Linked DNA regions of Homo sapiens. The protein of the gene in region 1 purifies or fractionates together with the protein of each later gene. This does not show direct contact. Each region holds a gene or a part of one and is shown on either strand. Other genes may lie near its edges. The genes, in order: XRN1 and UPF1.

Region 1 (3,920 bases):
AATATTAAGCTATTGAAGAGAAATGAAAGTCCAGAAGTCTCAGAAACCCAAAAGGTTGTGACTGGTTATCCAAATGCTATTGATAAGGTAAAAAACTATTTATTCCAATTCTCTTCCCAAACTTTAACACCTGGGAAGATGATTGAGTGAAAATCGAATGACCATTTTTGTACATAAAACTCAGCTTTTTGTGTGTTCTTGTATTATACGTTCATCTTCATGCCCAAAATATTTATTCTTTTAGCCTAACTCTGGAATTGAGAACTTTTTAGCATCTTTGAATATCTCCAAAGAAAATGAAGTACAGTCATCTCATCATGGGGAGCCTCCAAGTGAAGAGCATTTGTCACCACAGTCATTTGCCATGGTTCGTATTTTGTAGGAACTTTCTTACTGTGGTAATTTCTCGACTGTTGACCATGCAGACATATCCCATGCAAGTGTTCAAACACTTCCATCATGGAGGCTGGTATGTTACATCATTATTGTCATCTTGTGAGGAAACCAGGCTGCCCTGGGCAATTTAGCCATACTTTTTCTCTTTAGACCACAGTTCCCCTGCTTTTCAAACATTGCTACTAGGTAACTGGGATGAAAGTTAAGCAGGAGGATAAGTATCGTTTCTGTATCAGAAATGTGGGTGTTGGGTTTTTTTTTTTCAGTTTCTATCTGAATGTAGTTAATGTCTTAATTGTTAACAATGGAATTCTTTCCAAGAAAGATCAATAAGTTCTACAGATGTAATGTTGACTTTGTTCTCTTCACCCTCACCATCTCCATGTGAATCATTTTCAAAAAGAAGGGAACACGGATGCTTAAAGAAATTCTAAAAATTGATGGCTCTAACACTGTGGACCATAAGAATGAAATCAAACAGATTGCTAATGAAATCCCTGTTTCCTCTAACAGAAGAGATGAATATGGATTACCCTCTCAGCCTAAACAAAATAAGAAATTAGGTAAGTAAACTAAATACTATTACCAATAATATCATTTTAAAAATTCAATTCATTTGGTTCTTTTTAATCATGTACTTTTAAAGATAAAACTGCTTTTATTTTAATGTATTTATTTATTTTAGAGATGGTGTCTTGCTGTGTTGGCCAGGCTGGTCTCAAACTTCTGACCTCAAGCAATCCTCTCACTTCAGCCTCCCAAAGTGCTGGGATTACAGGTATATGCCACCACACCTGGCCCAAAACTACTTTTATTCTTAAAACTATAATTTTTATATTTGTTTCAGTTATATAATAATATAACTGGCCAGGTGTGGCTCATGCCTGTAATCTCAGAACTTTGGGAAGCTGAGGCAGGCGGATCTCTTAAGCTCAGGAGTTCAAGACCAGCCTGGGCAACATGGCGGAAACTCTGTCTCTCTAAAAAATACAAAAGTTAGCTAGGTGTGGTGGCGTGTGCCTGTAGTCCCAGCTACTGGGGAGGCTGACGTGGTAGGATTGCTTGAGCCTTGGAGGCAGAGGTTGCAGTGAGCCAAGATCACGCCACTGCACTCTAACCTGGGCAACAGAGATAGACCCTGTCTCAAAAAACAAAAAGAACAATAATAATACAACCATGTAACCAATAGATCTACAGTCACTAAATGTCTTCTTGTGATTACTTAATTGTAGTGTTATAGATAATCATTCTGTAGACATCCAAACCTTTAAAAGTTTGCACATTCTAGCTTTTGTCCTCAGTAATTTAAAAATTATCATGTAACTTAAATACATTATTTAACTTTTCTGAAATCTTGTTTCTTATTTATAAAATAAGAATAATACATTACAGATTACTTGTGGTAATTATATAACATGTATAAATATAAAACAGCACTATGTCCAACACATTGTAGGTGCTAATAATTGATATTAATATTATGTTAAAATAACCTAACTGTTGTAAAAATAGAAAAATCTACAAAATCAATTAAAAATCATTAATAGAGTTAGATATAGGAAAGTGAGTCATACTCTTAAGTCTGTAAAGCCTATAGCATAACATCTGGCACATAACTGGATTTCAGTAAATATCCGCCATATTTGTTCCTACCCTGAATGTCCTCTATACTTTAGCATTTTATCTGTATAATGATCTACTAAAGGCAGCCAGGAAGAATGACTGATACAAAAGTGGATGTGGGCAGAAGTTTCTCAGAGAAGTCAAAAACATTTTGGAATAAGCAGATCTAAGCGTATTAAAGATCAAAACCTGGAATTGGCTGGGCACGTTGGCCCACATCTGTAATGCCAGCACTTTGGGAGGCCAAGGCGGGTGGATCACCTGAGGTCAGGAGTTTGAGACCAGCCTGGCCAACATGGTGAAACCCCCTTTCTACTAAAAATACAAAAAATTAGCCGGGTGTGGTGGCAGGCGCCACCAAGTAGCTGTAATCCCAGCTACTTCAGAGGCTGAATCAGGAGAATCGCTTGAACCCGGGAGGTGGAGGTTGCAGTGAGCCAAGATCACGCCATCACACTCGAGCCTGGGCAACAAGAGCGAAACTCTGTCAAAACAAAAACAAAACCTGGAATAAAAGCAGAACCTAACCCCATTTATATTCCAGTGATAATTAATTAAAAATTCCAAAAAATATTAGGAACCTGATTATTTATTATAGTGACAGACATGGTCCTGAAATAGAACCAAATTAATTTTAAGACAAAATTAGATAAAGATGGTCCCATTGTCAAAAACAAGTAAGTTTTACTTTATTTCAGTATAGGAAAAAAAAAAAAAAAAACTCATAGGCTTTAGAGTCTTAGGGTCACTAGCTCAGAATCCAGCCCCTGTTATAGAACTAACTGGCTCTGTGACTTTGAGCAAGCCACTTAACTGCTTTTTTAATCTATATTAGTAAGAAGTTTGGATTAATTCTTCAATGAGGTATGCTTTTGTTCTATTAGTGAGTTTGTTAATCATAAAGAATGTGAACACTCAGAATTTTAAAATCATCTTCCATATAAAAACACTTAGAAGACAATTTCAAAAAAAACTTTTAAGAAATATTATTTCAGAGCCACAAAAATATTCATCCATGTGTCTCAGAATGTAAGGTGGAATTGCAAGAATTGAGGTGGAAGCCAAAACTTCAAAACTTAAGGATGAATTATATTTCAGCTCAAGAAAGCCATTTGTTTATTCATTCTTTTATTTTTCTCTTCTTACTTCTGCAAAACAAGAAAGCCATTTGTTTGTTCAAATTTTACCTGTAGCAGTACCATGTAGTCATTAGCTGCTCAAGGTTTTAATTTTTGGCAGTTAGGTACTTATATTTTAAAATCTTTATCTTAATAATTTATCATTAATCAATTATACTCATCCAAAAACCTTTACTGAAGTCACAATAATTTTAGGAAGTACTAAATAGTTGTTTATATGTGCTTCATGGAAGACTCATCTTTTTAATGCAGTTGGTGGCTCTATAGCGTCTAACTGAATTTTTCAAGGTTTTCGACCAAATTTATAAGGTGCGTGGCCAGAGGACCACTGAAGGTAAGCTGACAGTCACTTGGATGGCAGGTTGTACTGCTAGAGTCCAGGATTTGGAACTAGAGCCACCTGAAATCCTGATTCTGTTATTTAATAATGGGTGGCCTTGAGCAATTCACTTCACTTTTTAGCAGTTTCCTGCTTGCTCTTCTATAAAACCCTACAATAAGTGCATAATTTGAGATAGTATTTTATTAATAAAGATAGACTCTTTTCTCTTTTTTGGTAGCATCTTATATGAACAAGCCTCACAGTGCTAATGAGTACCATAATGTTCAGTCTATGGACAATATGTGTTGGCCTGCCCCCAGCCAGATCCCTCCTGTATCCACACCAGTAACTGAACTTTCTCGAATTTGTTCCCTTGTTGGAATGCCACAACCTGATTTCTCCTTTCTTAGGATGCCACAGGTATAGTATACTACTGTTCT
Region 2 (3,920 bases), on another chromosome or scaffold:
TTCACATAATCACTGGGAAACTCCTAACAATTTGAAAACACACTCAGTAAGTCTACTAAGGGGTAAGTGCTGACCAAACACTTGCCAACACTCCTCCAGGTAAACGGCATCTTATCTCCAATGTTCTGGCACCCTAAAACCACACCTGGGCTACCAGAGGATTCAAAAAGCCAAAATGAAGTCATGAGCATTTTTTTTTTTTAAGATGGAGTTTTGCTCTTGTTGCCCAGGCTGGAGTGCAATGGCACAATCTCAGCTCACCGCAACCTCCACCTCCCGGGTTCAAGCGATTCTCCTGCCTCAGCCTCCCAAGTAACTGGGATTACAGGCATGTGCCACTATACCCAGCTAATTTTGTATTTTTAGTAGAGACAGGATTTCTCCATGTTGGTCAAGCTGGTCTGGAACTCCTGACCTCCGGTGATTCACCTGCCTCTGCCTCTCAAAGTGCTGAGATTACAGGCGTGAGCCACCAAGCCCGGCCTGGATTTTCTTCTTTTTATTAAGACAAGGTCTCACTCTGTCACCCAGGCTGGAGTGCAGTGGTGCGATCATGGACATTTTGCCCAGGCTGGTCTCAAACTCCTGAGCTCAAATGATCTGCCTGCCTCAGCCTCCCAAAGTACTGGGATTACAGGCATGGGCCATCGTGCCCAGCTACATGTGCAGATTTTAAACTCACCACTTTTCGGAACCCAAGACTGTATGGAACTCACCCCGCCTTGGTCATAATCTCAGGGCTCAGCAGAAGATGGTGTGTTCACCTGGACAGTCAAGGATAGGTCAGGACAATGGCTTTGAAGACAAAGTAGCAACTTTCTATCCTGAGTATTTTACCACTTCAAAAGGAAAAGTGAGCCCAGGTTTACACACTCAGAGAAGTGGAGGCAATACAGAGAAGTCTGGCAGGAGGAGAGTGAGGGCTGGACGACAGGTCGGCTAGGAGCTTTAGCTAGTTGTCCCTTACGATCCAGAAAGACAGCATGTTTTTCCTAGGGAAACAACTCATGCACTCAGAGTAAAATCCCAGTACGAGATGACTATTCAGCTGTGACTCCCACAGGCTACCAGGAGTGGAGACGGAACAGGCAGTGCAGACCTGACCTGAGGATGAAGGAACAAAGTGGGACCAGTACCAAGCAGCATCTATCTACAAGGTCACCCAGAGCACCTGCACAAAAACATGCGTGTTGCTGCCTAAAAGGTCTGTACCTACCCACAGACCTCATACTTTCAGGTGAGCTAAGAAAAGCAACTCAAACCAATAGGCACACATTTTTCCCACTGGATGTACACACTGCTTTGTTTACCCATTCATCTGCTGATGGCCACTGGGGCTGCTTCCGGTTTGGGGTTCTCATGAAGAGATGCTGTCAGCATTTGGCGCAGCCCTGCGTACACACACCTTCATCTCTGCTAGGTCACAGGTAGGTGTATGGCATGAGAGTTCCAGGCAGCACTTTTGCCAGGCTCAATGGCTCACTCTGTAATTCCAACACTTGGGAGGCCTGAGGTGAGAGGATCTCTTGAGCCCAGGAGTTCAAGACCAGCCTGGGTAACATGGCAAAACCCCATCTCTACAAAAAAAGAAAAATCAGCCAGACGTGGTGGCACACACCTGTAGTCCCAGCTACTTGGGAGGCTGAGGTGGAAGGATCGCTTGAGCCCAGGAGGTCGAGGCTGCAGTGACCCATGATAACGCCACTGCACTACAGCCTGGGTGACAGAATGAGACTTTGCCTTAAAACAAAAACAAAAAACCCAAGTAGCACTTTCAGCCTTTTAAAAAAAGTATGGCAGGCTGGGCGCAGTGGCTCACGGCTGTAATCCCAGCACTTTAGGAGGTAGAGGAGGGCGGAACACGAGGTCAGGAGATCAAGACCATCCTGACTAACATGGTGAAACCCTGCCTCTATAAAAATACAAAAAATTAGCCGGGCATGGTAGCACACACCTGTAGTCCCAGCTACTCGAGAGGCTAGGGCAGGAGAATCGCTTGAACCCAGGAGGTGGAGGTTGCAGTGAGCCAAGATTGTGCCACTGCACTCCAGCCTAGGCAACAGAGCGAGACTCCGTCTCCAAAAAAAAAAAAAAAAAAAAATGGGTGGATAGTGGTATCTCCCTGACTTTTCTTTCCAGTTTCATTGAGGCATAACTGACATACCATAAGCTGCAAATGTTTAGTGTGCCATTTTAGAAACTGACATACATCAATGTACTTAAACACCCATAAAACTATCACTACAATCACGATAATAAAAACGTCCATTACCCCCAAGTTTCCTGTGCCCTTTGTCACCTGCCTCCCCTTTCCCACCTTTCTGTCCAGCCACCACTGGTCTGCTTTCTATTGCTGCAGGCTAGCTGGCAATTTCTAGAATTTTTTTATGAATTAAATCATATGATGAATGACACATACAAAAAAGTAATTATTATGAGACACATCCATGTTGTTGCAGGTATCAATAGTTTGTTCCTTCTTAATACTGAGCAGTATTTCCAACTCTTAAGAGTTTCACTCTAGTTCCCGTTTGGAGGATCCAGGGCAGAAGCTACAGTCAAGAGGAAATATTCCAACCAGGCAGACCAAAAGGCTTGTAACACCAGCTATTATGCAAAGGACTTCTGAAATTACCTTCACTGTCCTGGGAGCAGGAGAAGTGGCAGCAGAGAAGGGCCCAGGAAAAGGTCAGATGCTCGAAAACTGTCCCTGTATCTTAAGGACACTTGGCAATACTGTGTCAGCGCTTTTCATCCCAGGATCTCAAGGGCTTTGATAAATATCAGTTTCATTTCATAAACAAGAAAAGGAGTGTTATCTGAACCAGCTCTGAGTGCAGGGAGTCACCCCTGCTGCCACTTTCCCATCCCGGTGGGGACACACTGTCTTTCAACACACATTAAGGGAAAACCAACTGCGCAAAACCAGTTCAGGTAGGGTTGGTATGGAAAGTGGCTACACACTGGAAAACAGTCTTGCAGTTACTGAAACCATTAAACCCAAGGTTACTACGCGGCCCAGCAGGTCTATAAACACATCCACGCAGAAACCTGTACACTCATGGCCACAGCAGTGCTATTCACAAAAGCCAAGAGGTGGAAACAACCCAAATGTCCATCAACAGATGACGAGATAAACAAAACATGGTCCATCCATCTGGACCATTCCACCCATGGAATATTACTCAGCCTTAAAAAGGAATGAAATGCTGGCCAGGTGCGGTGGCTCATGCTTGTAATCCCAGCACTTTGGGAGGCCGAGGCAAGTGGACCACATGGTCAGGAAATCAAGACCATCTGGCCAACATGGTGAAACCCCGTCTCTACTAAAAATACAAAAATTAGCCGGGGCATGGTGGTGTGCACCTGTAATCCCAGCTACTGGGGAGGCTGAGGCAGGAGAATCGCTTGAACCTGGGAGGCACAGGTTGCAGTGAGCCAAGATCACGCCACTGCACCCCAGCCTGGGCAACAGAGCGAGACTCTGTCTCAAAAAAAAAAAAGGAATGAAATGATGACACATACCACAGCGTGGATGAACCTCGATCAGGTTCATTTTCCTGAATGCTCGGCCAGGGAACAGCTACGAAGCTCACCTTGTAGCTACTTCTCACACATCACGCAGAGTGAAAGGAGCCAGACACAAAACACCATATATGATATGATTCCGTTGATGTGAAATGCCCAGAACAGGCACATCTTGAGACAGAAAGCAGGTGAGTGGTTGCCAGGGGCTGTGGAGGTAGGACGGATGGGCTAAGGGGTGCAGGGTTTATCTCTGGGGTGACAAAAATGTTCTAAAGTTTACTGTGGTAATGGCTGCACAACTCTGAATATACTAAATAAAAGCCGCCGAACTGTACACTTTATATGGGTAAATTGTATGTTGTGGCAAGTGAATTCTATTTCAATAAAGCCGC

Evidence for each region.
Region 2: the proteins of XRN1 (region 1) and UPF1 purify together in Homo sapiens (affinity purification with western blotting; 4 studies listed by BioGRID and IntAct, with this or other methods). This does not show direct contact.

The regions. Positions count from the first base shown.
Region 1 is NC_000003.12:142,329,414-142,333,333, reverse strand, and holds part of XRN1 (5'-3' exoribonuclease 1), read left to right. Parts: intron 1-244; coding exon 245-367; intron 368-799; coding exon 800-959; intron 960-3,696; coding exon of another isoform or gene 3,697-3,718; coding exon 3,719-3,900; intron 3,901-3,920. UniProt on the Homo sapiens protein: Major 5'-3' exoribonuclease involved in mRNA decay. Required for the 5'-3'-processing of the G4 tetraplex-containing DNA and RNA substrates. The kinetic of hydrolysis is faster for G4 RNA tetraplex than for G4 DNA tetraplex and monomeric RNA tetraplex.
Region 2 is NC_000019.10:18,834,931-18,838,850, reverse strand, and holds part of UPF1 (regulator of nonsense transcripts 1), read right to left. Parts: intron 1-3,920. UniProt on the Homo sapiens protein: RNA-dependent helicase required for nonsense-mediated decay (NMD) of aberrant mRNAs containing premature stop codons and modulates the expression level of normal mRNAs.